Linked DNA regions of Homo sapiens. The protein of the gene in region 2 purifies or fractionates together with the protein of the main gene of each other region. This does not show direct contact. Each region holds a gene or a part of one and is shown on either strand. Other genes may lie near its edges. The genes, in order: TCN1, DDX31, MSLN and AZGP1.

Region 1 (7,516 bases), on a different chromosome or scaffold from region 2:
TAATTAGAAAACTGAGGCTCAGTATTAACATGACTGGTTCAAGGCCCACCCATACCTAGTTCAAATCTGGGTTGTTCCATGGTTGCCTTTCCATCACCAGCTTTCTTAGTTATGATCTGTATTCCCATGTGGTTGTGAACTAAGCTAGCTTATATAACAGCATTAATGGATAAAAATCCATAGCTTTTGTTTGTGGCTTCTTGAAGAAAAGTGGTTTTTAAGACCAAAAGAAGCAAGACCTAGCTCTAGGGTGAATGGCATGGGATTGTATTTTGGGCATGTTTCTGTTACCTCAAGTTTGGTACCATTAGAAGGGATGTAGCAGGGATACTTTGGATGCATAATTTTTTAGGATTAGTTGCAGATAATCTTTAAATAGGTAGATTTTTTTCTAAATCTTCCAGAATATACAGCAACTTACATCTGCTTTTCACATTGTATTTGATTTGTTGGATCATCTTTTGCATCAGGGTTTGGATCTGGATTCCAACAAGTTTGAGGGACAACACAACATTGACAGCGCTGGTTCCCCTGTTATAGTTTGACTGGATCATTGTATTCAACAGAGGTTTTAGGCGGATGTAGTTTTCTTCACTTACCTCTGTGGCAGAGAAGGAAGGAAATAAGAAACACATACTCAGAAAATAGTAAGACTTGCAGCAGGGGTTATATAAAAATATTTAGTAACAGATATGGCACAGACCTAGACCAATCCAGTGGCTGCAGACTGTGTTGGTGGAATAATACAAAGGTGGGTCTTGAACCCACCCCCATGCCAGACATTACTCCTTTAACAACCAACATGAAAATGTTTTAATATTTTAACAACTGGTGCAGACTTATCATTGTGTACTGGCAGACTCCTGCCTGGGAAATCTAGCATCATTCCCTAATTTTGTATATGAAGCTTAGATAGATTGTCCTTAAAGAAACTTCCATAATTGGAGGCTGAGCTGAAACTAGACTACATGTCTTCTGACTCTCAGTAAGCAGGACTTTCTACTTCCTGGATTCAGTTCTTTCCTTCTCCATCTTCTAAATCAACTGGGTTAATGTTGAGAAAATGCAGGTAATAATTCTGTGTTATACTGGTGATTGACCCCAAAACTTCATTGTCTGATTACCCAGCTGGCTGGGCATCGAGATCATTATTTAGCATTATGCAGCCTGTAAAAAACTCTCCAGTTTTAGCCTACAATATGCCCCAATTCCAGAGATGGAGGGAAGTCACATTATACTGTGGAAGTAGGAAAATCCATAGCTCCCAAGGAAATAGAGGAGAATAAAAAGATTTACTATTTATTTAAACACAGGACACTTTGTCAATGTATTTTTCCATAATCTTGAGGAGTAGCCCCAAATCCTACATATCTCCAGATTATCTAATGGATTAGTGGGAGAGTGAGAAGAACATGAGGTTTGGATTCAGATTTTGGCCACATTTTGTGCTCCTTAACTTATGACTGTGGATAATAACTTATGTAACTTGTTTTACTCTTAGTTTTCTCATTTAAAAATTGTGGCTGTTAACACTTACCTTACAGATATTGGACAAGAAACCACCGAATAAACTGTAAAATGCTGCACATACTATTATTTCCAGCTCAACTGGAGTTTTTATCACTATACTTGAGAATCAAGGAAATGTAATTTCTCTTGCCCAGTTTTCTTTACTTTAAAAGAATGAGTCAAGAAGATCTGAATAGAGTGATTGTAGAAAGGTCATGGTTTGTTGCAGACACAATGGAACAATTGTGAGTCAGTTCTCTGAGATTTTGTGGAACCATCCAGCTCAGCAGATTTTCTGGCCCTGAAACAGACTTTTTAGTTCCTGATCAACAACTCAAATCAGCTTCCTTGAGTCTCAAAGATAAATTTAATTATTATCATTATTATTTAAAATGAATTGAAAGCTAAAACCTACATAGCCATTCCCTATTCTTAGGATCCAACAGGGGAAATGTCAAGCCAAGAAGAAAAATCAGAGTCAGAAGAGTCTATGCTTTAGCCTGTATGTATACAAGCCTGTCTTCTGTGGTGTTCTCTTCTTACTGGTTAGAGAGCACAGATAGTACCACCTAGTAATCTTTGGACTGGTTTGAAGCTCAATTTCAGAGTAAAGTCTCACAAAAGAGAATTCATGCACTTGAGAACTGCACCAGACTTCATGAGATAATTTGCTTCAATAGTCTCCCCTCATTATCCTTTATTTATGAATGAAGCTAAAGAAATTCAGAAATGTTGGGTCATTCAATAACTAAGGGATCAAACTAAACCTGAATTTAGTTTTCCCTTCTCTTACTTTAAAGTTCTTTTACAGAACCACACAATCTCTGGGGTCAACACCCATGCAAGAGATGATGGAACTTTATCCCATGTGTCCTGGGAAAGAGTTGAAGGAAGGTGGACATGCAACTTGGAACATCTAAACTCACTCATGACAAGACAGCAGTCATCACTATTTGAAAGAGATTATTATTTTTTTCTATGTAGTTACAAGGGGTTAACCCAAAAATCATGCATTGAATTTCAGGGAAAAAAGATTGCATATCAAGACCAAAAGATAACTTTCCATGATCTAGAAAAGTTTCTGGGAGCATAAATTTTCTGTCATTGAAAAGTCACATGAATAGGGAGTTACTTGGTAGGGATGCTGTGCTAGAGAGGATCTGAGCATAGAAAGAGCAGTTAGGCAAGTGAATACACAATCTATAATTCCTCTTACAACAACATGCATTGTGAGACTTTCCTCACCATCTCCTGCCACCCTTTTCATCATTCATGGAGTCCAACCACATACGAAACTGGAATGGGATCTTTTCTCAGGTAACTCTACATAGAGTCTCTTGTCAACAGTTTTCAGTAGACTATCACTCTAGAGTAATTTTAGCTCAAAGTTTACTCACCACAAATCTCGCATAGTTGGCTTGGAATAAAAGAAAACAGTAAGAGCCCCACTAGGGGCAGCTGGTGTGACTGTCTCATCTCTCCAACAGTGTACCAGAATGTTGATGAATTGGCTGGCTATTTATTAAGTGATGGGCAGAAGGTAATGAGAGCTCCTCCTTCAGGTTGCCTCAGCCTCTTTTCACTCAAGCAAATATTGAGCAATGTCAGGAGGTGTGGTCAAGTGTATTTGTCCATGTGATGTAATAAATAAGGAAGAAGACTTGAAGGATGTGGTTAGGGAGAATAAGGCAATAACTTTCCTTTGTCTCCTGTCCTAAACCTTCGGGTTTCATATCTATTATTTGCCTTCCGTGCAGTGAAGATATATTAGGCAAATGACTGTTTCCTATAATCTTTCCTTTTTTTTCCGTTTCACTTTATGTTTTATGTTTCCTGATAAAGTAGATTTGATCATGCAAACACATACAACATATAAAAATGGAAGTAAAAGAAGACATCCAAATGGGAAGCAGGCATATGAAAAAGTGCTTGAAAAGGTGCTTAACATCATTGATCATCAGATAAATGGAAATCAAAGCTACAATGAGATATCCTCTCATCTCAGCTAAAAATGGCTTTATTCAAAACACAGGCAATAACAAATGCTGGCACGGATGTAGAGAAAAGGGAAGCCTTGTACACTGTTGGTGGGAATGTAAATTAGTACAATCACTATGGAGAACAGTTTGGAGCTTCCTCAAAAAACTAAACATAGAGCTACCATATGATCCAGCAATCCCACTGCTGGCTATATACCCAAAAGAAAGAAGACCAGTATATTGAAGAGATATCTGCACTCCCATGTTTGTTGCAGCACTGTTTACAATAACCAAGATTTGGAAGCAAGCTAAGTGTCTATCAACAGATAAATGAACACAGCAAATGTACATATACACAATGGAGTACTATTCAGCCATATAAAAGAATGAAATCCTGTCAGTTGTGACAAAATGGATGGAACTGGAGATAATTATGTTAAGTGAAATAAGCCAGGCACAGAAAGACATACATTGCATGTTCTCACTTATTTGTGGGATCTAAAAATCAAAACAATTGAATTCATAGAGATAGAGAATGAAAAGATGGTTACTGGGGGCTGGGAAGGCTAGTGGTGGGAAGGAGATGCGGAGGGTTAATGGGTACAAAATATTGGAAAGAATGAATAAGACCTACTATTGGTAGCATAACAGGGTGACTATAGTCAATAATAATTTAATTGTACATTTTAAATAACTAATAGTATAACTGGATTGTTTGTAACGTAAAGGATAAATGCTTGACAGGATGAATACCCCCTTCTCTATGATGTGATTATTACGCATTGCATGCCTGTATCAAAACATTTCATGAGCCCCATAAATATATACACCTACTATGTACCTACAAAAATTGAAATAAAAAAATTTAAAAACGGAAGTAAAAGTTGTAAGTCTGAAATTGAAGCAGGCAGTATTGGAGAACCCAGCACATGAGGGGATCTTTGGCATAGTGGTTTCCAAACTATGATTTTTCTCCTAAGATAGATTCCATGAGAGTTTCCTAACCAAGGAGGAAAACCAGAGAGCTATACATCAAATGTGAATTTCTGCCCTGCCAGGGCAGTTGCTACATGTGAGAAGTGTTGCCTATCACAGTTCTTCTGAGAACTATTAGAGAATACTGTCAGCCTAGCTAAGGATGTCATGACTTAATGAGCCACTATTTGCATTGTACCTCTGTGATGGTTAATTTTCTGTGTCAACTTGACTGGCACCTGAGTGCCCAGATTAAACACTATTTCTCGATGTATCTGTGAGGGTGTTTCCAGATAGGATTAGCATTTTAATTGGTGGACTCTGGAAAGTAGAATGCCGTCTCCAATGTAGGTGTGCATCAATCAATCTATTGAGACCCTGAATAGAATAAAATGGTGAAGGAAGGGGGAATTCACCCTTTTTTTGCTTCCTGCCAGCCTGTTTGAGCTAGGACATCTTATCTTCTCCAGCCCTCAAACTGAGATTTACACCATCGGCTCCCCTGGTTCTTGGGCTTTCAGTTTGGCCTGAATCACTCCACTGACTTTTACTGCATGCAGACAGTAGACTGTGGGACTTCTTAGCCTCCATAAGGGCATGAATCAACTCCTTGGAATAAATCTCTTTCTCTCTCTCACATATTTATATAAAACTTATGTGGAAACCACCATTCTACTCTCTGTTTCCATGTATTTGATAATTTTTAGAATCTACATATAAATGAGATCATAGTATTTGTCTGTGACTTATTTCATTTAGCATGATATTCTTCAGGTTCATCCATGCTGTCTCAAAGGGCACTATTTCCTTCTTTTTTATGGCTGAATACTATTCTATTATATAAATATAAATATATATATACACACACACACATATATGTGTGTGTGTATATAAATCACAATTTTTATCCCTTCATCCATCAACAGATATGTAGGTTGTTTCTATGTCTTTGATATTGTGAATAATGCTGCAATGAACATGGGAGTACATATTTTATATAATATATATTTTTGTTTGTTTGTTTGTTTGTTTGTTTGTTTTTGAGACAGAGTTTCTCTCTTGTCGCCCAAGCTGGAGTGCAATGGTGCAATCTCAGCTCACTGGAAACTCCACCTCCCGGGTCCAAGTGATTTTCCTGCCTCAGCCTCCAGAGTAGCTGGGATTACAGGTATCTGCCACCACACCGGCTAACTTTTCTATTTTTTTTTAGTAGAGACAGGGTTTCAACATGTTGATCAGGCTGGTCTTAAACTCCTGACCTCAGGTGATCCACCCACCTCAGCCTCCCAAAGTGCTGCGATTACAGGCGTGAGCCACCGTGCCCATTCGGGAGTACATATATTTCTTTGAAACACTGCTTTTGCTTCCTTTGGATATGTACCCAGAATTAAGATTGTTGGATCATATTGCAGTTCCATTTATAATTTTTTGAAGAACCACCACACTGTCTTCCATAATGGTTGTGCAAATTTACATTCTGCAAACACAAAGGATTCTCTTTTCTCTACATCCTCATCCATACTTTGTTATCTTTTGTCTTTTTGATAATAGTCACCCTAACAGGTATAAGGTGATGTGATTATTCTGATTTGAATTTCTCTGATGATTAGTGATATTGTGCATGTTTTCTCATGCCTGTTTGCCATTTTTATGTCTTCTTTGGAAAATGTTGAGGTCCTTAGCCCATTTTAAAATCAGGTTATTTGTTTTGTTTTTGTTTTCATTTTGCTATTGAATTGCATGGTTCTTACATATTTTGGATATTAATCTATTTTCAGATATAGGTTCGCAAATATTTTCTCAAATATTCCACAGCAACTTGGATGGAGCTGGAGGCAATTATTCTAAGCAACACAGGAGTAGAAAACCAAAAAAAATATTTTCTCACTTATTATTAACATTATTTCATTCCTTTTAATGGCTCAGTAGTAGAATTCTTCTATACCCAATTTGTTGAGAGTTTTTTTTTATCATGAAAGGATGCTAAATTTTTTTGATTGATTTTTTTTTTTTTGCTTTTTTTTTAATGTGCTGTTGAATTTGGTTTGCTAGTATTTTGTTGAGGATTTTTGCATCTATGTTTATTATGGGTATTGGCCTGTGATTTTTTTTTTTTTTTTGGTAGTGTCCTTATCTGGCTTTGGTATTAGGGTAATACTCATCTTGTAAAATGAGTTTGGAAATATTCTTTCTACAATATTTTGGGACAGTTTGTGAGGAATTGCCATTAATTCTTCTTTAGGTATTTGGTTGAATTCACCAGTGAAACATCTGGTCCTAGGCTTTTCTTTGTAGGGAGGTTTTTGATTGCTGATTCAGTCCCCTTATTTATATTTTTGGTCTGTTCAGATTTTCTATGTCTTCATGATTCATTGTTGGCACATTGTGTGTTTCTAGGAATTTATGCATTTCTTCTAGGTTATCCCATTTGCTGGCATATAATTGTTCATAGTAGTCTCTTATGATTCTTTGTATTTCTGTGATAGCAGTTGTAATGTCTTCACTTCTTTCATTTATAATTTTACTTATTTGAGTTTTCTCTCTTTTTTCTTGGTTAGTCTAGCTAAAGGTTTGTCGATTTTTTTTTATCTTTTCCGAAAACCAACTTTTAGTTTTGTTGATCTTTTCCATTGTTTTTCTATTCTCTATTTTATTTGTTTCTGCTTTGATCTTTGTTGTTTCCTTCTTTCTGATAACTTTGGGTTTAGATTATTCTTTTTCTAGTTCCTTAATGTTTAAACTTAGTTTGTTCATTTGAAATCTTTATTTTTCCTTAATCTAGACATTTATAACTATGAATTTTCCTCTCAGTACTGCTTTTGCTGTATCCTATATGTTTTCAGATATTGAGTTTACCTTTTCATTTGTCTCAAGATACTTTTTACTTCCTCATTAATTTCCTCTTTGGCTCCTTGATTGTTCAGGAGTGAATTATCTAATTTCCATGTATTTGTAAATGTTCCAATTTTTCTCACATTATTGATTTCCAGTTTCATACCATTGGGGTCAGAAAAGATACTTGATATAATTTCAATATTCTTAAATTTGTTAAC
Region 2 (7,736 bases):
CTCGGCCTCCCAAAGTGCTGGGATTACAGGCGTGAGCCACTGCGCCAAGCCTTTTTTTTGTATTTTTAGTAGAGATGGGGTTTCACCGTGTTGGCCAGGCTGGTCTCCAACTCCTGACCTCAAGTGATCTGCCTGCCTCGGCCTCCCAAAGTGATGAGATTACAGGTGTGAGCCACCTCGCCCAGCCCAGAAAGTATTTTTAGAGAGAAAATTTCTGCATAGTGTTAGATACAGCATAATTTAAGCTGTTAGTCTTTCTAAATCCAGTATATTAGCTACCCATCTCAAGTTCAGGCTACTGGCAAGTCTCATCAGCATATCCATCATTCTCATTCACGACATCAATGAAAATGTAGATCTAGGCCTGGCTGGCTCACGCCTGTAATCCCAGCACTGTGGGAGGCCGAGGTGGGCAGATCACAAGGTCGGGAGATGGAGACCATCCTGGCTAACACACAGTGAAACCCCATCTCTATTAAAAATTCAAAAAAATTAGCCGGGTGTGGTGGTGGGCACCTGTAGTCCCAGCTACTCAAGAGGCTGAGGCAGGAGAATGGTGTGAACTCAGGAGGCAGAGCTTGCAGTGAGCAGAGATCGCGCCACTGCACTCCAGCCTGGGAGACAGAGCGAGACTCCATCTCAAAAAAACAAAACAAAACAAAACAAAAAACGTAGATCTAGACAAGGCCACCGCAGACACCTGTCATCACTGCATTAATTAATCCCCTTTTGATAACCATAAAACTAGGTAGCCTATATGTATTTACTCAATGCTTCTTATGTGTTAGTTACCAGGCTCTGCAGAGGACACAAGCACCCCACTGACCTCCTGATGTAGCAATCTATTATCCAAAATGGAGCCAAAACTACTTTATACTGTTGGCATTTATTAAGTGCTTCTATGGGCCAGACAACGTATAGTCTTCATGTATACTATCTCAATGAATCCTTACAATAGTCTTCTATGGAGTAGAAATTATTGTTCTCATTTTATAGATAGGAAAAGTGAGAATCAGAAAGATTAAGTGACTTGCTCCAAGGTCACAGAGCTAGTGTGCAGCAAGGGCAGCATCCGAATCCCAAGTGTATCCTATTCCAAATCCCATGCTCCCAGTGGCTCTTCTATCCTTCTCCCCGCTCCACCCAGATGCAGCTACACTTGGCTAGCTGGACTCCTTACTGCCAAACATCTAAATCCTAAAGTTTGATGATCACTTTATGATTTTAATCAGTCTTTCTGTCCTGTAGTCCTCTTTTCTAAGAGACAAATCAACTATCCTAGAAACCAGTTTTCAGTTACTGCTTAAGTTAATTCTAGGGCATCTTACCCCTCTCTAGCAATGGGATTATATCAATGAAACCGATTTTCCTATCCCCCTCCATTGCATGGGGATGAAAATCTGTCCCATTTTTGAAAGCTCTTCAAAAAAACTCCTAGTTGCCAGTCCTCATTCCTGAAACAAACGAACCTTCCTCATGGCGACCAAAAGAGTTAAACTCAAAAATATCTGAAGAGACTTATTCTGAGCCAAGTATGAGTGACCATGGCCCATGATCCAGCCCTCGAGAGGTCCTGAGAACATGTGCCCAAGGTGGTCGGGGTGCAGCTTTTTTTTTTTTTTTTGAGACGGAGTCTCGTTCTGTTGCCCAGGCTGGAGTGCAATGGCATGATCTCGGCTCACTGCAAGCTCCGCCTCCTGGGTTCACGCCATTCTCCTGCCTCAGCCTCCCGAGTAGCTGGGACTACAGGCGCCCACCACCACGCCCAGCTAATTTTTTGTATTTTTAGTAGAGACGGGGGTTTCATCTTGTTAGCCAGGATGGTCTCGATCTCCTGACCTCGTGATCCGCCTGCCTCGGCCTCCCAAAGTGCTGGGATTACAGGCGTGAGCCACCGCGCCCGGCCGCGGCTTGGTTTTATACATTCTAGAGAGGCATGAGACATCAAATACATTTCAGAAATACACTGGTTTTGTCCAGAAAGGTGGGACAACTCAAAGCGGGGGCTTCCAGGCTATAGGTAAATTTAAACATTTTCTAGTTGACGGTTGAGTTTGTCTAAACACCTGGGATGGATACAAAGAAAATGCTCAGGTTAAGATAAAAGATTGTGGAGACCAAGGTTCTTTTCAAGTCTTTAGTGGCTGCCCTTAGAGACAACAGACAAGTGTTTCCTATTCAGATCTTTGAAAGGTGGTAGACTCTTAATCTCTTTAGGATTGGGAGGGCCTGGAAGAAAAAGATCTAGCTATGTTAATAGAGATTCTTTGCAGATGCAAATGTCCACCCCGCCCGCCCCCCCCAAAGAACAGCTTTGCAAAGCCATTTCAAAATGTGGCAAAGAAACATGTTTAGGGGTAATATTTTAACTTTCTTCTTTGTCACATAATGTTAGGCCAGAGCCAGTTTGGAAAGTAAGTCACGATATATAGGGTTAAATGAAAGCCATCTGATGAGAATTTATGGTTTGTAGGGCATGACTCTTCCCAGACAGGAATGTGGGCAAGATAAAAAAAAAAATCAGAGCTTAGTCCGCACTCAGTCGAGGAAACTGGCTTAGAGAAGTTAAGCTTTGGCCTGGGACTTGCGCCGGAACTTCAGGTCCTACCTTCCACGGGAAACAGCCTCTAATTCCTTCCTTTACTTTTCTAGGCGCAGGAGCCAGCTCCCCGCCCCTCCACACCGCTCCACTCCCCGCTTCCAGGCGCATCCCTGCGGGTGGTGTTCCGGTTAGAGACACGTGTTTCGGCGCAACTTGTCCCGAAGCTGCCCGGTGTCTTTCTCCCGCTTAACTCCGTGAATGACTCGAAACCCGACTCCAAGGCACGGCTGCAGCTCGCGGCGCGCCCACAGCCGGGCCGCGGGTGGGGACGGAGCTGAAGCCGGGTCAGAACTCACCCGACTCGCCTGGGCTGGGGGACGTCTGGAGAACGTCCTGGGGTTGTCGAAGAGCGAACCGTCGGCGGCTGCCATGGTCTGCGTGGGTGACGCGTGGTGCAGCAGCGAGCCCGGTGCGCAGACTGCTGGGCCCGGGACCCCACGTGGGACGCGCGAGGACCCTGCGCCACCGCCCCTTCCGGGTCCGGAACGGCTCCAGCTGTACGGACTCGTCCCGAGGGGAGCCGGGGACGGCGGCACCGGGCGGGTAGGGACAAGACTACCGCGCGTGCCCCCGCCTGGTGGCAGCCCCTCTCTGCGTCCCTCGCGGCCTGGCAAAATTACATTCGGCCGAGAGTTCACGCTGGGGAAGCTCTCTGAATGCCTCTGAGAAGCGAGATCCGGCGCCATCTCACCGACGAGCCTCCCCTTTACCGCCCCGTGCGTTTCCTCAGCACTTTAGGAACTAAAGCCTGTCTGGGTAGCTCCCTAACAGGCTCTGGAGCTCAATCCCTGGGCAGGGAAAAGGGGGTCCTCGGGGCTCCCCGCTCGCTGTCCTTTTTCTGGACAGGCAGTTCCTTGGCCACCTGGTAGGGCCGCGTTGCCTGGCAACGGCGGGGTCCTTCTTGGCTCGGCGGCGCTCGGGGCCTGAGGGGAGAAAACCGCCGCGGAGGGCGCTGGGGGTGGCGGCGGCGGTCCGGGAGGTGGTCGCGCGACTGCGTGGAGCGCCAGGGCGTCCGACCTCTGCACCTGAGAGAAGATGAACACGGCCGACCAGGCCCGGGTGGGGCCCGCGGACGACGGGCCTGCGCCGTCTGGGGAGGAGGAGGGAGAGGGGGGCGGCGAGGCGGGCGGGAAGGAGCCAGCAGCGGACGCGGCCCCGGGGCCCAGCGCTGCATTCCGCCTCATGGTGACTCGGCGGGAGCCGGCCGTGAAGCTGCAGTATGCGGTGAGCGGCCTGGAACCGCTGGCTTGGTCCGAGGACCACCGCGTGTCTGTGTCCACGGCCCGCAGCATCGCTGTGCTGGAGCTCATCTGCGACGTGCACAACCCGGGCCAGGACCTGGTTATCCACCGCACCTCGGTGCCCGCACCGCTCAACAGCTGTCTCCTCAAAGTAAGTCATCCCCCGCCATCCCTGGGGTCTTCCCCTGTCCCCCTCTCGCGGCCGCATCATCCGTCCCAGGGGAATCCGATCCCACACTCTGTCCGGGGATTTCCCTCTTCGCACCGAGCGCTGGGGATTTATTAAGCAGCCAGGGTTACCACAGCTTAAAAAAAAAAAAAGAAAAGCTCTGCAGCTGTCTGCACCCTGTTTCCCCAGGTCACCCGCCGCCGCAAACACAGGTACACACCCAGGGGGCTTCCCGGAGTTGAGTCCCAGGAACCCCTCCTTCGCCCCTCCGTCGGGCCCGCACATGGAGCGGGTTACTCGATGGTGCTTTCTGAGACTCCACCCCCTGTAGATCCAACCCGGGGCCTGCCTCTGTCGTTGCTGCTATTGTTTGGGGCCGACTTTCCGAGGTTCTTGGCTGGCTTTGTCTACTGTGTGTGTCCTCCTCTCGCGCCTCTTTAGCTTCAGAAAAGAAAAACTGGTCCCATCCATTGTCTTAATTGTTTCAGTGACTTTATTATGAATGGTCCTCGCCTCTCCTTGGGCAAACGGGTAAATACTGGATCTCGGGGTTTGTACTTTAGTTTTTCTTTACTAGCTAAACATCTTTGGGATGTTGAATGAAAATAAAGATTCGAAACAACTACCTATCTTAAACTTCAAGCGCAAGGTCAAGTAGTAAGCCATAGCGTTCCTTTTAGTTGCTTAGAGGTGTAAAAACTTTCCATATATCCTTGATAGAGGTGTACGCTTACATGTGAACTGTCAGTGTATATTCATACATTCAATAGATATTTGAATACCATTCTGCTTGGTGCTGCCCCATGTTCTGGAAATAAAGCAGTGTACAAAACAGAACCCCTGCCCTCATGAAGCTTACATTCTTTGGCAAGTCAAGCACAAATGATAAGGTCCTGTCAGGTAGTGATAAGCACTGTAAAGATGTGTATCCGCACATAGAGAACATGTTTATGTGTTCGTAAACTCTTATTTTGGAAAACCATTGAAAATATGAGTCATTAGCTATAGGTAGGGTGCAGATAACCCTCATCACTTTGTAGCATACTTAATTCAAGTTTCAAACATCTTTCTGTTGTTAGATTGTTAGTCAGCTTGTATGACTAAGCTTCCTCTAAGATCTTCTTGAAGAAGATATGAACACATTTGTTCAAGTGTAAACAAATCAGATAGACAGATGCAACCCTATGAAATTGAGAAATACAAAAGGAGGGAGGCAGAAGAAAGGTGATTTAAAAGGTGTATCTTCTGCTGTAAAGGAATTTAACTGTTTCCAAGGATGTTCATCCGCACAGCAACTCAAGGAAAGTATGTATGTCAGTATAGTAGACATCGAATACCTTAGCAGAGAGAATGTAAAGAAAGGAGGGAGTAGTAAGGGGAGAGACTTATGGGGCAGGTCATCTGGTGGTGAATCTGCAGCAGTCCTAAAGAAGGTAGTGTTTGGTTTGTAAGAGGAAGGAAGGAAAGGGCATTCCAGGCGGCAGGAATGAGGCATTCATCCCATGTGCATACACGTTTAAGTCATGAACATAATTAATTATTGTTTGTATAATGACGGATCAGTACATGAGCTCAAGTAGGTCTTCTAGAGAGTCCGAGAAAGTAAGATGAGACCAGTTTGTGGACTTGGAAGGTCGGTATGAGGAAGTTGGCTTCAATCTAGGAAGTCTTTAAGATGCTGTTACAGTTTCATTAGCATAGAGTGACCTGCTGTGGTTCAGGAACATTACTGGATAGAGGCAAGAAGATGATTGTTGTGATCAGTGTAAAATAAAAGTGAAGAGACTGGGCTTTGGCACAAGATAGGCCTATCTATAAAAGGGGGATAATGAAGCGTTGTTTAGGTTTTTTGGAAGATTAAACACACATAATCACTTGGCCCAGTTCTTGGCACGCTGTAAATGCTCAAGGTGAAAATATAATGAGTTGGGCCGGGCGCGGTGGCTCACGCCTGTAATCCCAGCACTTTGGGAGGCCGAGGCGAGCGGATCACGAGGTCAGGAGATCGAGACCATCCTGGCTAACACAGTGAAACCCCGTTTCTACTAAAAATACAAAAAATTAGCCGGGCGTGGTGGCGGGCGCCTGTAGTCCTAGCTACTGGGAGGCTGAGGCAGGAGAATGGCGTGAATCCGGGAGGCGGAGCTTGCTATGAGCCAAGATTGCGCCACTGTACTCCAGCCTGGGCGACAGAGCCAGACTCCGTCTCAAAAAAAAAGAAAGAAAATATAATGCAGTTATACAGGTATGAAGGAGTAGGAGTCTGGATTAATGTCGTGGTTGTGGACATGAGTATTCTGATAAAATTTTGACTGTCATTTTGCCTCAGTTAACATTTACCACAACTGCTAACTAGTAACAGGAAATCCTTATATAGCTCTCTTATAGTTGACAAATGGCTTCTATGAAATTAATTAGTAACATCTTCCCCTTCTGTACTGTTGTTTTTTTTTTAATATGCACATCACATAAACCATCAGTCATTTAGCAGTCTTTTTAGACTGATTGAAGTGAATGAATGCTGAGTTGACCCTGCAGTTCTACAAGAGCCCTCTGTGGGTTAAAACTGGTGTGACGGTAGGAATGTAAAGAAGTCTGTGTCAGCACTTTGATGACTCCACCCATTGGCAGTCTGTGGATTTAAATCTGCTCGGTGCCGTGCAGCATGCCTTCGCGCTAACCTAAATGGTGGACAGTCTGCAGCGCAGATGACAGTTTTAGTGTAGCACTGTTAGAAAGCTAGGTACTAAACACCTTTGAAGCTTTTGCTCTATAATTCTGTTATTTAGATTATGAATTTGCAGGAAAATCTGCAGTTATGTAATAGTTCAGACATTAATTATCAGCTGTTTTATAAGATTGTATGATATAAAGGTGGACAGTATAAATCTGAAAAGCAATGAAATAGTGATTTAAGAATGTCAGAATTGTTTTTCCCATTGGACTACTGATTTAGTGACTCATCTAGTGAGACATTTGTGTATAGTTCCAAATTCTGATAATATTTGTGTACCGAATTGTATTGTGCATCAATTGTTAGGAGCCTTAGAAAGTATTAACTTCATCTGCTACATTAAGTTAAATAACTGTTGCCTGTCTTTGGACTCTATTACCTGTCCTCAAGAAGCTTACTGTCTAAAAGCTTCAAGTGAATTTTTGTCAGGTGCTTACAAAATGCCTAACAGTTAGTATTAAAAGTATTTGCCATTAAAAGTGATGGTGAAAACCGCAATTACTTTTGCACCAACCTAATAGTGGTCAACTGGAAACTGGATGGTGTACAATTAAATGATTGGCTGCGGGCAGGCCTCTGGGAGCTGGACTTTTTAAGTATACTCCTTGGGCATCTGAATACTTGATTTGTTAACAGTTTTGTGATAGGGAGAGTTGGAGGGAGGTTCAGTAGTCTAGTTGAAACATATGTCAGAAATTGCTACACAAAACCCTAAGACTTTTTCCTACCAGTCAAGATCTGTACTGCTCTCCATCCTGTCAAGAATTCTTCCCACAATGAGTAGGACCAAGGGTTGCTTAAGCTTCCTTTATTTCATCCCGTGCTGCTGCTTTGGGTTACCAATCCTGTGAGTTTACTTCTACAGTAGCTTTTATTTGTAGCAAATTTAACCTATTCTAAGGAGTATTGCTTAGTTCACAGTATTAAAGGATTTGATGAACAATTTTATATCTACCTTTCATTTGGTACACAACTTTATGTCTACCTTGC
Region 3 (6,955 bases), on a different chromosome or scaffold from region 2:
CGAGGGCCCCTCGAGCCTCACCCTTGAGGACTGTGAGGACCCCAGACCCACCTGGAAATGTTAGGTGGGTTGGCCAGGACTCCGTCCAGGGGCGCAGCCTCCTGGGGACACAGGGCCTGCTGAACATGGCTCAGACCAGCTCTCTGGAGCAGGAGTTCCCAGGTCCCGCTACCCCTGGGCCAGGTACTCCCCGAGTTCAGCTACTTCCCAGGCCTGGCTGTGTCTCAGACCCATGGGCTTGGCTGCTTCTCATCCATCTACTTCCCAGACCCAGCTGCAATTTCAGCTCTGCCGCTCCCTGGACCTGGCTGCTCCCAGGCCAGTCACATGCAGGTCCAGGTGCCCCTTTGCAAGCAAGGACCGTGGAAACTGGCAAGCACCGTGGATACGTGACAGAGAGAACACAGCATGGCACCCCCACCTGGGACCTGAAGACCCTCCCCTGTTTCCCCAGAGGGGACCTTACCTGCCCTGTCTCTCCAGCCAGGGTCCTCGAGGGCTGCACCCATCCTAAAGGGGCAGAGGGGACAGCTTGGGGGAGGGGGCGGGCCTCTGGGCTGTGCCCTGACCCAGGGGAGGAAGGAGGCAGAGCCTGGCCGCCCCCACAGCCAGCCCTGTGCACACCCCAAAGAGAAGCCAGTGGCTCAGGCCCATGTACCCCGTGACATCACAGTCCCCCAGGCACAGGGGTCGGGACTCCACCAGGGAGCCCGGCCTTCCACATCTTTCCCTGAGACCCGGCTGCTTGGCCGGTCAGACCACCCATCCCACAGACATCCCCACTGTGTCCTGAGCCCCATCACTCCCTGGCTGGATCTCCAGCTCCAGTCACCTCTGGGGGCAGAGACTGCTGCTGAGACGTGGCCACCACAGGCACTCCAGGGAGAAGGCAGGGGCAGGCAAAGCCTTGCTGGGGGCCTGGCCCCCAAGGCCCCTGGGCCGTCCCCACCTCACCAGCAGCCCCATCAAGTACGCACCGAGGCTGAAGAGCAGGAACAGGAGGCTGCCGAGGGCGGGGGTCCCACAGGACCCCAACAGGGGTCGAGCCGTTGGCAAGGCCATGGTCTGTGTCTGTGGAGGGCAGTGACTCAGGATGGGACCCCCTGCTCCCACCCCACGCCTCTGTCCTGGGCCAGCCTGGGGCCACATGGGCCCAGGAGGGGCTCCCAGAGCAAACTTCTGTGGTACCTGCAGCTTGTGTCCGCACCCTGGCCCTGCCCTCCAGCCACTGAGCCCTCTGTCCCCTGGACTGGCTCCTCCTGTCCAGGGGAGGGGCTGGGTCTGAGATCCCGGTCCCCAGCCCAGACAGCCCAGGAGTCAGTTGGCGCCCACCCCTCTCCCAGAAGGGCAGGGCAGTGTGAGCAGAGCTTAGATCAAGCAACCGGGGCCGCCGCCCACTTGGGCTGGCCTGAGTCTCCCCACTCTCGCACAGGAGGACGAGCAGCCCCGTCGCCTGGATGTGGCTCCCTTCCCTCTCCCCTGCCCTCAGCTGCAGGTGCCTGGGCTTTGTGAACACCCCAGGCTCTGCCAGGCAGACAACACCCTTGAGGCAGGAGGGGCACTGCGGGCACAGAGGCCACCGCCCCTTCCCACCCAGCAGCGTCTTTTTGGGCCACTTGGCCTCTCTGAGCCCATTTTCAGGTGCAGTCCAGGTGGGGCGGGGCTGGGCCAGTGAGCAGCCTGGGGAGCCCCTTGTACTCTCTAGGGTGGGGCCTGTGGGCCACTGTGGGGTGGGGAAGTGGGTGGGGAGACCCTCCCTGAACAAGAATTGTCCTCCTGGGGTAGGGGTGGGGCTCGCAGAAGAGGGAACTGGCTTCTACACTCACCCCTTTCAGGGAGGCCACCATGGCGGAGTAGAATAGAGCTGCCTCCTGAAAACCTTGGCCCAGGCCCGGTGGGTCCACCCACAGCTCAGAAATGGGGGTCACACGCTCATGCTCAGCAGCCCCATCCACAGGCAGAGCCTGCCTGGTCGGCCCGGCCACTGGGGAATGTCGCGGGGAGGCACACAGCCTCCGGGTGACAGACTCTACTCCCCCAGGCCCCAGAGGAAGTGGGGAGGCCCCTGAGGCTCTGAACACCTTGAGAAGGTGGAAGAAAACAGACCCCCCCCACAGCCAGAAAATGGGCAGTGAGTGGGACCCCCAGCCCTTGGGGTGCGTGAAGCCAGGAGGGAAACGTGGCCATCGGATCACAGGGGACCTGGGCACTCCCCACCCCAGCTCCATGTGACCCAAGGACCTCAGCACCTGGGATGGGGGCTCCCCGAGAGCCCGGCCCTTCCTGCTCTGAGGGGCCTCTGCAGGCCATGGGGGGCCCTGGAATCTGCATCCTTTACACCTGCAGGAGAGCTGGGCTGGGGCCGTGGAGGCACCTGCACTGCCTTAGGACTGCCGCTTCCAAACAAATGGGTCTGCGTGTGCCCTGCGGGGTGAAATCTGCGTCCAGCTGAAGCCTGACCATCGCTCTGGTGCTGGAAGCCCGGCCTGGGGCGGCCCCAGTTCTCCAGATGGAAGGTGCAGATTCCATCCACACCACAACAGGAAGAGCTCAAAGGTTGTTACTTACAGATCCCAGGGAGGGAGGCACCGTGGGTCCACCGGTAGCTCTCTGTCCGCGCGTCACAGCAGACGGGAGTGGCCGGCCAGGCAGAAAGAGGAGTGCGTGGCGCTGGCAGCGCCCATGAGGAACAGGACAGCCCCTTTCAGATCGCGGGCCAATGCCCACACGTGGGCCTCTAAAGGGCGATGTGAAAGGGGAAGCCCAGCCCCCAGGCCTCTGAGGCCTTCTGCGCAGTTGGGTAGGGAGCTTTACCCCTAACGCCCGGGCAGCCCCCAGCCCTCCAGGTCCCGAGTGGCCCCTCCCAGGTCTCAGTGGGCCCTGCCCAGGGTAACTCTGATGTGCAGGGTGATTGGCCACACCTGAGCCTCCTCTGCCTCGGTTTCCTCAATTGGGAAGTGGGGGTGGAGAGCCTGGCAGCCTCCCGGGCCGTCAAAGGGAACAAATGACGGCTTTGCCCGGGGCAGCAGGGAGTGGTGGCGCCTCACGCCCCAGGAATGTGTGGGTGGAGACCCCGCACAGGAGCCTTGGACAGGCAGCGGGCCAGGCCTGGGGGAGGAGGGATGCCCAGGAAGGCAAAGCTGCCCTCGGTGGGCGAGGGTGGGAGCCCGGGCCCAGGTTTCACGGCTGCCCTGGGTGGGTGTGGGGCATGTGTAGGAGCCCGGGCCCAGGTTTCATGGCTTCCCTGGGTGGGTGTGGGGCGTGGGTGGGAGCCTGGGCCCAGGTTTCACGGGATCCCACTCTGATTCTCAGGTGCTGAAACCCAGGGAGCACTGGCCCCCCCAGTCGCAGGTCAGCAGGCTCTGGATGGTGGCCACGCAGCCCAGACAGGACTCCCGGGAGCACAAGCCTGACCCCCAGTGCAGTGTGGGCCTCGCAAGGCTGTGAGCCGTCCGTCTCAGGGCTGTGGGAGCACACAGGTCAGGGAGGCAGGACGGGGCCCAGCTCCAGGCACACGCACACCCCTTTCTCGCAGGGTCGACTGGAACAGAGCTGCCCCCGGGCGCTCTCTGGCCTGGCGAAGTGGGAGCTGTCTTCCCTACGCATCTGGGCTGGCTGCCTGCTGCTGATGGAAGAGCTGCTCCTCCTGACCTGGGGCCACAGAAGCCCCCTCCCTGCCCCTGAAACCCCTCCCAGCATGTCGTGAGCTCTTATCCCCAGTACGGAATCTGCCTCCGCTATGAACACCTGCAAAGGTTTGTGTGCTGAACGGAGGTGTGCGCGGCGGTCATCTCTGGTCTCTCCACAGAGTGGGTTTTCTATCGTGACTCGCGGTGGAATCGGACCTTCACGCACACAGAATTCAGCAAGGCTGCCAGGTGTAAGCGTCAACTTACAAATGTCAAGAAGGGATTAAGGGCCTTTTAAAAACTCCCTTCCGCAGAGAACAACTGAAAAATTCCAGACACTCTTGTAGCAAACCAGTTACCCAAGGGCTCTGGGGAGGGGACAGAAGGCAGCCGGCTTGGGCGGGAACTCACAGGTAAAGGGAGAGGCCAGCTCCGAGTGGCGTTCCCTTTGTGTCCACACAGCTTTGCTCTGAAGGAGCCGCAGGTTGGCTGCGGGGCTGTGAAGTGGCCCAGGCTGCCACGGACACCCACAACTTTCCCGGCCAAAGGCCAAAGGAAACCAAGGAAGGAGCCCAGAATACTCAGGGCCCAGAGCTCGAGGAGAGGCCTGAGCCGGAGGAGCCAAGGAGGCGCCCACGTGCCCAGCTGAGCCCTGAACTGAAGGAGCCGAGGAGGGTCCAGGAAGAGCTCGGAGGGCCCCGTAGACACGGCTGAGCCCTGAACAGGAGCCTCAGAGGGGCCCATGTGCCCGGCTAAGCTCTGAACCAGCCGACTGCAAGCTGCGGACAATGATGAAAACGCGCTGTGGCCAGCCTGGGCTCACCCTTCAGCCAGCACCGTGGGAGGCCGATGCGGGAGGGTCCGTTGAGGCCAGAAGTTCAAGACCAGCCTGGGCAACGTAGTGACACCTCATCTCTATAAAGAATCTTTAAATGAGGCCCTGTGTGGTGGCGCACGCCTGTCATCCCAGCACTTTGGTAGGCCGAGGTGGGCGGATCACCTGAGGTCAGGAGTTCGAGACCAGCCTGGCCAACATGGAGGAACCCCGTTTCTACTAAAAATATGAAAATTAACTGGGCGTGGTGGCACATGCCTGTAATCCTAGTTACTCAGGAGGCTGAGGCAGAAGAATCACTTGAACCCAGGAGGTAGGGGTTGCAGTGAGTCGAGATCACGCCACTGCACTCCAGCCTGGGCAACAGAGCAAGACCCTGTCTCAAAAAAAAAAAAAAAAAAAAAAAAAATGCCGGGCGCAGTGACTCACGCCTGTAATCCCAGCACTTTTGGAGGCCGAGGCAGGCAGATCATGAGGTCAGGAGATCGAGACCATCTTGGCTAACACGGTGAAACCCCGTCTCTACTAAAAATACAAAAAATTAGCCGGGCGTGGTGGCGGGCGCCTGTAGTCCCAGCTACTCGGGAGGCTGAGGCAGGAGAATGGCGTGAACCCGGGAGGCAGAGCTTACAGTGAGCCGAGATGGCACCACTGCACTCCAGCCTGGGCAACAGAGCGAGACTCCATCTCAAAAAAAAAAAAAAAAAAAAAAAAGCCCAGGCGTGGTGGCTCACGCCTGTAATCCCAGCACTTTGGGAGGCCGAGGTGGATCATGAGGTCAAGAGATCAAGACCATCCTGGCCAACATGATGAAACCCCGTCTCTACTGAAAAAAAAAAGAAAGAAAGAAAGAAGAAAAATAAGAATATCTGTGTGATTTTTTTTTTTTCTGAGACGGAGTCTTGCTCTGTCGCCCAGGCTGGAGTGCAGTGGCGCGATCTCCGCTCACTGCAACCTCCGCCTCCCAGGTTCATGCCATTCTCCTGCCTCGGCCTCCTGAGTAGCTGGAACTACAAGCGCCCGCCACCATGCCTGGCTTTTTTTTTTAAGTAGAGATGGAGTTTCACCGTGTTAGCTGGGATGGTCTCGATCTCCTGACCTCGTGATCCGCCCACCTCGGCCTCCCAAAGTGCTGGGATTACAGGCATGAGCCACCATGCCCGGCCATATCTATGTGTCTATGTGATTGAAAGAACGTAGATTCCTACCTCATATTATATGCAAAATTTACTCAAAGCCAACCATAGGCCTGAGTATAAAGGCTGAAACTATAAAACCATTAGAAGGAAATTCAAGAGGAAGTGTTTGTGGGCTTGGAACAGGCAAAGACCTGTTAGATGGAAGAAAGAAGGCAGAAACCATGACTGACACTGCTGCTCTTTGAATGATGCCGTGAAGAAAATAAAGAGCCAAGCCACAGAATAAGAGAAATATTTGCATGACATATACCCAGAATTGACAAGGAACATTTGCAGTTCAATGATAAGACAGACAATCCCGTAAAACCCAGGCCATATGTGCTGCAACGCGGCTGAGCCTGGAAACACGGACACGTCGTACGAGTCCCTTTAGATGAAACGTCCAGAGTGGGTCAATTTAGAGAGACAGGAAGTAGATGAGTGGTTTCGTAAGACCCGCGGGAGGGAGACCAGTCAGGAGGACTGACTTCTAAGGGGTATGGAGTTTCTTTCCTTTTCTTTTTTGAGATGAGTCTCCCTCTGTCGCTCAGGATGGAGTGCAGTGGCTCGATCTCGGCTCACTGCAAGCTCCGCCTCCCAGGTTCAAGCGATTCTTCTGCCTCAGCCACCGGAGTAGCTGGGATTACAGGCGCCCGCCACCACGCCCGGCTAATTTTTGTATTTTTAGTAGAGACGGGGTTTCACCATGTTGGCCAGGCTGGTCTCAAACTCCTGACCTCAAGTGATCAGCCCGCCTTGGCCTCCCAAAGTGCTGGGATTACAGGCGTGTGCCACCACGCCCAGCTAATTTTTGTATTTTTAGTAGAGACGGGGTTTCACCATGTTGATCAGACTGGTCTTGAACTCCTGACCTCAGGCGATCCGCCCACCTTGACCTCCCAATGCTAGGATTTCAGGCTGCAGCCACCACACTGGGCCCGAACGGTACTTCCAATGGGTAAATGGGTGAGCTGTATAGTGTGGATTATCTCTCAGTAAAGCTGTTATTTAAAAATGGGCAAAAGATTTAAACAGACACTGCACACACACACAAAAAGATACAAAAGCCAGGTGTGATGGTGCATGCCTGTAGTCCCAGCACTTTAGGCTGAGGTGGGAGGATCACTTGACCCAGGAGTTTGAGGCTGCAGCGAGCTATGACCACGCCACTGCACGCCAACCTGGGTGACATAATGGGACCCCATCTCTGCAAAAAATTTAAAAACTAGCCAGGCATGGTGACGCAGGCCTGAAGTCCCATCTACTTGGGAGGAGGAGGTGGGAGGATAGCTTGAGGCCAGTTTGAGGCTGCA
Region 4 (7,272 bases), on a different chromosome or scaffold from region 2:
GGCTGAGGCAGGAGAATGGCATGAACCCGGGAGGCGGAGCTTGCAGTGAGCTGAGATCATGCCACTGCACTTCAGCCTAGGTGACAAAGCAAGGCTCCATCTCAAAAAAAAAAAAATTAACACTTCTAGCTTAACCTGACAAATACATATAGTTAGAAAGGGTAGAAAGGAGAATTTACCAGAAAATTCAAGAAATGACCCAGACTGAATTAGCACAGGGTAAGACTAGGATGGAGCTCAGAATTCCCGGGGTTGTACCTTGCATTTTGGTACAAGGTGGGATCTGGGAGAGAGGGACATTTCCATAATAGTTCCATAATTATTTTATGATACAATTTACACAGGTGCTAATGATGTTGGAGGTCATATGGCAGAATCCTAGTTCAATTACTAAAATTATTCTTGCTCCTGAGTGTCTAAATGTGATTAGCCTTTAAATCAGTAGACCCTACAATTGAATTCATGGACATAGAGAGTAGAAGGATGGTTACCAAAGGCTGGGAAGGGTAGTGGCAGGGTTGGGGGGAAATTGGGAGGGTGGTTAATGGGTACAAAAAAAATAGTTAGAAAACTATTTGATAGCACAACAAAGTGACTCCAGTGAATAATAATTTAACTGGGGCCAGGTGTGGTGGCTCATGCCTGTAATTCCAACACTTTGGGAAGCTGAGGCAGGTGGGTCACTTGAGGTCAGGAGTTCGAAACCAGCCTGGCCAACATGGTGAAACCCCATCTCTACTAAAAATACATAAATTAGCCGGGCGTGGTGGCACACACCTGTAGTCCCAGCGACTCAGAAGGCTGAGGCAGGAGAATCGCTTAAGCCCGGGAGGCAGAGGTTGCAGTGAGCCAAGATTGCACCACTGCATTCCAGCCTGGGCAACTCTGTCACAAAAAAAAAAAAAAAAAGAAGAATGAATAAGACCTACTATTTGATAGCACAACAGGGTGACTATAGTCAATAATAATTTAACTGGGGCCAGGTGTGGTGGCTCGTGCCTGTAATTCCAGCACTCTGGGAGGCTGAAGTGAGTGGATCACTTGAGGTCAAGAGGTCAAGACCAGTCTAGCCAACATGGTGAAACCCTATCTCTATTAAAAATACATAAGTTAGCCGTGTGTGGCAGTGTACACCCGAGGCAAGATAATTGCTTGAACCCAACAGGCGGAGGTTTGCAGTAAGCCAAGATCACGCCACTGCACTCCAGCCTGGGTGACAGAACAAGAATCCATCTCAAAAATAATAATAATAATCATAATTTAATTGTACACTTTTAAATAACCAAAAGAGAGGCCAGGCGCAGTTGCTGACACCTGTAATCCCGGCACTTTGGGAGACCAAGGCGGGCAGATCACGAGGTCAGGATATCAAGACTAGCCTGGCCAACATGATGAAACCCGTCTCTACTAAAAATACAAAAAAATTAGCCAGGTGTGGTGGCAGGTGCCTGTAGTCCTAGCTACTCAGGAGACTGAGGCAGGAAAATTGCTTGAACCTGGGAGGCGGAGGTTGCAGTGAGCCGAGATCATGCCACTGCACTCCTGCCTGGGTGACAGAGTGAGACTCTGTCTCAAAAATAAATAAATAAATAAATAATCAAATACTTTTAAAAACTAAAATAACCAAAAAAGTATAATTGGATTGTCTGTAACACAAACGATAAAAGCTTGAAGGGATGGATACCTCATTTTTGATGATGTGATTATTTCACATTGCATGCCTGAATCAAAACCTCTCATGTACCCCATAAATATATACACATACTATGCACCCACAGTTTTTTTTTTAATTTACAAAAAAATCAGTAGACCTTGAGTAAAGTGGATTACTCTCCATAGTGGTGGGCTTCATCCAATCAGTTGAAGGCCTTAAGAGAAAAAGCCTCAGATGTCCCCTAAAGAGGAAAGAATTCTGCCTACAGTCTGCCCTTGGAATCAAGACTAAGACATCAACTCTTCCCTGGGTCTCCAGCCTGCTGGCCGGCTCTGAAGATTTAGGACTTGTTACTCCTCCCAATAGTGTGAGTCAATTTCTTAAAATAAATCTCTACTCTCTCTCTCTTTTGTATACATATATGTAAATCTCTTCCTATGTGTGTGTGTATCCATGTGTATACAGTGTATGTATGTATGTGTACGTACATATATATGTATATGTGTACCACCTATTAGTTCTGTTTCTCTGGAGAACCCTGAGTAATTCAGATTTTGGCACAGAATCAGATTAACATTCCAAAGTGATTGTTATATAACAAACATATAACACCTTTTCTGACAATTTGTAAATGTCATGAATTTTAAACTCACACAACTGAGAAGCCATTCGCTTCCATGTCTTTATCCTGCACATTCTCATGCCACAAACAGCCTCCTTCCCTTATCCTAGGAGTGACTCTTGATCTCCCGGAGCTCCCACTCTCTTCTCTTCCAGCCACTCGCCTTCCAGACCCACTGCAGTGGTGTCTGAGTGTGGGATTTGGGCACGGGTTTCCTTCTAGCACCATCCCTCCAGCCAACCTGCCTTCCCACTTTCCCCTTGGGGCTGCTCTCTCTTTCCCTCAGCGTCAGGCAGGTGTACCCAGCCATCGGAAGGAGGGAAGGAACAGGAGCAGAAGCAGCTCCAGGCATATGGTTCCTACTCCGTCCTGACTGTCTACCCCAAGCAGGTCGCTTGGTCTTTGGAGTCTTTGTTTTCACTGTAAACTAGGGGTTTTAGATTCAGATTCCTGAAGGTCTTATTTCGGGCCAGCGCAGAGGCTCCCTGAATGCTCCTGGAAGTGTGTGAGCTGAGGGAGTTGACAGCCTTGGGCACCCATTCCTGCCGTATGCCAGGGTATCCCAGCTGCATCCAGCCTGTCTCCCAGCCACATGTCCTGTTCCTCACCTCCTTCCAGTCCTCTCCAGCACCCATCCCTTGCTTTCCCCACTCACCATCTTGGTTCTCCTGGGGGACAGCAGGACCCAGAAGCAGCAGCAGAGACAGCAGGACAGGCACCATTCTTACCATTGTGTCTGCTTGGAGGGTTCTGGGCAGGAGGCACAGATATTATCCTGGGTCCTGGGGCCCTGCCCAGGGGAGGTGAATCTACAGGCCAATGGGAGTGCCAGGACGGGCTCCTCCCCTAATAGAGAAAAAAAAATGATACACAAGCTAGGCTGGGCAGAGGTTATGAAGAATGAATCTACACACAGGATATGCAAATTCAGAGCTGAGTCCAGAGTTGATCTCTGGACTGAGGCTTTGTGTGTGCCTGGGGTGGAAGGATGCCAGTGGGTAGGAGGTGCGTGTGATGGGTGGCAAGCGCCTGGGATGTGTCACCCTTCCAGTCTATTGTGACAACCCCTGGGCCAGTAGGGGCATTTGTGTGTTTTTGGACCACACTGTATCCCTGCCTTCCAGAAAAACTCTCAACATGTCCAAGACATGGACCTGGGTAGACCCCAGCTGGGGTGGGACCCTCACTCTCCCACATCCGATCCTGCCAGAGGCTGTGTCTGGAGGACAGTCACATTCCCATCTCTCCCTCCTTCCTTTCTGTGCCTGTGGAATCCCAGCCTTCCATGATGGAAGCAGAAATAGCCGCATCCTCCTTTTGCAGCCTCCCTGGCAACAGAACGAGCCTCCCAAAATGCTGGGATTAAAGGCGTGAGCCACCACGCCCAGCCAAGATAATTTTTAATGCATACAACAAGACTCGTTTTACACAGACGAAGCCAGTTATTTGAAAACCAGGTCTTTCCAGGCACGCTCAGTGTTGATGGGCTATTTGCAGAGAGACCCTCCGAATACAAAGCAACATGCTATTCTAAAGTGACTGGGGCCCGGGTGCGGTGACTCATGCTTGTAATCCCAGCACTTTGGGAGGCTGAGGTGGTTGGATCACCTCAGGTTGAGGTCAGGTACTCGAGACCAGCCTGGGCAACATGATGAAACCTCGTCTCTACTGAAAAAATACAAGAATTAGCTGCGCGTGGTGGCACATGCCTATAATCCCAGCACTCAGGAAGCTGAGGCAGGGGTTTCACCATGTTGGCCAAGCTGGTTTTGAACTCCTGACCTCGTGATCTGCCCGCCTCGGTCTCCCAAAGTGCTGGGTTTACTAGTGTGAGCAACTGTGCCCAGCCTCTCTTTTGGTTAAAGAAACCTACAAAGGGACCTTTTATAGTGACTTCAATTTTATGGAATAATTGTAATGCTCCTAAGGCCGTTGTGCTCCAAAGTCTAGCCGCAGGTATTGTTATTGATTGGGCTCCAAAAGGGCATTATTGGCAAGATTGCTCCAGCAAAAATACCTCATGCTCAGAGTTTAATTATTTGTTAGATTATGTAGAGGATGGATGGCAGTCATACAGGCTGAGACAATGGGTGTCCCCTTACCTATTTAAATGGATGGATGCAGGCATTACTCCTCCTAGACCAAAAATGATTCATCCCTTTGTTACCCCAGAACATCCTCAACTATGAAAATTAGCTGCAGCTATGACAGGAATAAGGATATGGAACACTACCTATCAACTCCTTCACACTAATACCAAAACACCCACATTCAACATCACCCTCATATCTGAACGGGTGATACCCATCAGGAGCTATGTCAAACCCCCTTACATGCTGTTGGTTGGAAATATAATTATCATTCCCAATACACAAACTATAGAATGTGATAACTGTAAGCTGTTCACGTGCATTGATGCTACTTTTAATCCCACTACAAGTACTCTCTTGGTAAGGGCTAGGGAGGGGGTATGGATACCAGTTTCTTTACATCGTCCATGGGAGTCTTCCCCCTCTATTCACATAGTCAATGAAGTTCTTAAAGGTATCCGCAAAAGAACAAAGAGATTTATTTTTACTCTTATTGCCATCATTGCAGGACTAATTGCGGTTACTGCAACAGCAGCAACTGCTGGAGTTGCCATCCACAATTCTGTTCAAACCGTTCAATATGTTGAATTGAAGCATGGCAGAAAAACTCCTCCAGACTTTGGAATTCTCAGGCTCAAATTGATCAAAAATTAGCTAATCAAATTAATGATCTCCGCCAAAGTGTAATCTGGCTGGGAGATATGAATTTGGAACACCGTATGCAATTACAGAGTGATTGGAATACTTCTGATTATTGCATAATGCCTTATGCTTATAATAAATATCAACATAGCTGGGAAAATGTCTCAAGACATTTAAAAGCCTGGGATGATAACTTAACCTTGGATATTTCAAAACTTAAAGAGCAAATTTTCGAGGATTCACAAGCTCATTTATCCACTGTTCCTGGCTCAGACATTTTTGAAGGCATAACTAAACAATTATCTGATCTTAATCCCTTTAAATAGATCAAACCCCTTGGAGGATCATTGTTGTCACTGGCATTATTAATATTGGTATGCTTACGTTGTCTCCTTTTAGCCTGCAGATGCCTCCAAGGAGTCCGAAAACAAATCCGAAGTCAACGACAAGCAATGATGGCGATGGCGATCCTAGTTAATAAAAAGGGGGGAGATGTGGGCGGCAAGCCATCCAGGTGCCAAGCCAAGAGACCGAGGGCATGAGTTGTTCCAGTATAATAAAATATATAAAACAACAAGAGTTATACTAGATCTAGATCATAGATATGATTATATATCAATATCATTAATCATTAGTTTTTTCCAAATTTATTATTCCAATATTATAATATTATAATAATCCTCCAATATTATAATTTATTCCAATATTATAATAATCTTCGCTGCATAATCATAACCTAAGAAAAACCAGGCCATACAGAGATAGGAGCTGAGGGGACATAGTGAGAAGTGACCAGAAGACAAGAGTGCGAGCCTTCTGTTATGCCCAGACAGGGCCACCAGAAGGGCTCCTTGGTCTAGCAGTAACGCCAGTGTCTGGGAAGACGCCCCTTGCCGAGCGGACGGTGGTCTAGCGGTAGCCTCAGTGTCAAGGAAAACACCCGCTACTTAGCTGACCGGGAAAGGGAGTCTCCCTTTCCTTGGGGGAGTTTAGAGAAGACTCTACTCCTCCACCTCTTGTGGAGGGCCTGACATCAGTCAGGCCCGCCCGCAGTTATCCAGAGGCCTAACCGTCTCCCTGTGATGCTGTGCTTCAGTGGTCACGCTCCTAGTCCGCCTTCATGTTCCATCCTGTACACCTGGCTCTGCCTTTTAGATAACAATAGCAAATTAGTGAAAGTACTAAGTCTCTGATAAGCAGAAATAATGGCATAAGCTGTCTCTCTCTCTTCCTCTTTCTCTCTGCCTTGGCTGCCAGGCAGGGAAGGGCCCCCTGTCCAGTGGACACATGACCCACGTGACCTTACCTATCATTGGAGATGACTCACACTCTTTACCCTGCCCCTTTTGCTTTGTATCCAATAAATAACAGCGCAGCCAGACATTCGGGGCCACTACCGGTCTCCACGTCTTGGTGGTAGTGGTCCCCGGGGCCCAGCTGTCTTTTCTTTTATCTCTTTGTCTTGTGTCTTTATTTCTACACTCTCTCGTCTCTGCACACGGGGAGAAAAACCCTCCGACCCTGTGGGGCTGGTCCCTACACCAATCTACCATAACAGATACCTCAGCCAACTGTTGAAGTTATCACTGCACACCAGGCCTGCCAGAATCCCCCAAGACTCTTGTGTTTTCACTGCGCAGCCCCAATCTGGCCCAGTAACCAACCTCAGCTTCCCAGCCCTCCATTTCCCTGAGTAAATACTGCCTGGAAACAATCCTTGTACCAATCTCTGTATCCGCCAGGAGTATTTGTTATTGGAAACGTAATGCAGTTCTGACCTTAAGCAGAAAATAAACGTATTTATTGGTTAGCTCTCAGAATCCACAGAAAGGATGGAGAACCCAGGCTCAGAATTCCAGAGGAGCCCAACAGTCAAAATCACACCTGCAACCGGCCCAGTAAATATACAGAAGCTGCCAGCAGGGGGCAGCAGAGGCCACAGCACGGGATCTACAACATCCCGGGGGACTGAAGCTCAAGACGCCCCCCGCAGCTACTGCAGCCCCACTGCCCCGGGAGCTGGCAGTTGCAACCCCTGCCAAGACCACCAGAAAACATTGTCCACTGTGCCCTCCTCTTTGTTTCCCTAACACTTGACCTGATATCCAAGGCAGTAGCTTCGACTTGCTGAGCATAAACCCTGTGCACACCTGCTCGTTCTATTGCCAGGGAGGCTGCAAAAGGAGGATGCGGCTATTTCTGCTTCCATCATGGAAGGCTGGGATTCCACAGGCACCTAAAGGAAAGAGGGAGAGATGGGAATG

What was found.
Region 1: the proteins of DDX31 (region 2) and TCN1 purify together in Homo sapiens (affinity purification with mass spectrometry; 2 studies listed by BioGRID and IntAct, with this or other methods). This does not show direct contact.
Region 3: the proteins of DDX31 (region 2) and MSLN purify together in Homo sapiens (affinity purification with mass spectrometry; 2 studies listed by BioGRID and IntAct, with this or other methods). This does not show direct contact.
Region 4: the proteins of DDX31 (region 2) and AZGP1 purify together in Homo sapiens (affinity purification with mass spectrometry; 2 studies listed by BioGRID and IntAct, with this or other methods). This does not show direct contact.

Annotation. Positions count from the first base shown.
Region 1 is NC_000011.10:59,863,486-59,871,001, forward strand, and holds the start of TCN1 (transcobalamin-1 precursor), read right to left. Parts: upstream 3,003-7,516; 5' UTR 2,986-3,002; coding exon 2,907-2,985; intron 602-2,906; coding exon 422-601; intron 1-421. UniProt on the Homo sapiens protein: Binds vitamin B12 with femtomolar affinity and protects it from the acidic environment of the stomach.
Region 2 is NC_000009.12:132,666,962-132,674,697, forward strand, and holds the start of DDX31 (ATP-dependent DNA helicase DDX31), read right to left. Parts: upstream 3,023-7,736; 5' UTR 2,974-3,022; coding exon 2,899-2,973; intron 2,713-2,898; exon of another isoform or gene 2,711-2,712; coding exon of another isoform or gene 2,609-2,710; intron 1-2,608. Other genes in the region: GTF3C4 (general transcription factor 3C polypeptide 4), read left to right, coding at 3,638-3,994. UniProt on the Homo sapiens protein: May have DNA helicase activity and RNA helicase activity. Probably have ssDNA and RNA dependent ATPase activity. Plays a role in ribosome biogenesis and TP53/p53 regulation through its interaction with NPM1.
Region 3 is NC_000016.10:756,788-763,742, reverse strand, and holds the start of MSLN (mesothelin isoform 1 preproprotein), read right to left. Parts: upstream 3,010-6,955; 5' UTR 2,922-3,009; intron 2,671-2,921; 5' UTR 2,569-2,670; intron 1,072-2,568; 5' UTR 1,063-1,071; coding exon 978-1,062; intron 511-977; coding exon 467-510; intron 102-466; coding exon 52-101; intron 1-51. UniProt on the Homo sapiens protein: Membrane-anchored forms may play a role in cellular adhesion. Megakaryocyte-potentiating factor (MPF) potentiates megakaryocyte colony formation in vitro.
Region 4 is NC_000007.14:99,973,014-99,980,285, forward strand, and holds the start of AZGP1 (zinc-alpha-2-glycoprotein precursor), read right to left. Parts: upstream 3,019-7,272; 5' UTR 3,008-3,018; coding exon 2,932-3,007; intron 1-2,931. UniProt on the Homo sapiens protein: Stimulates lipid degradation in adipocytes and causes the extensive fat losses associated with some advanced cancers. May bind polyunsaturated fatty acids.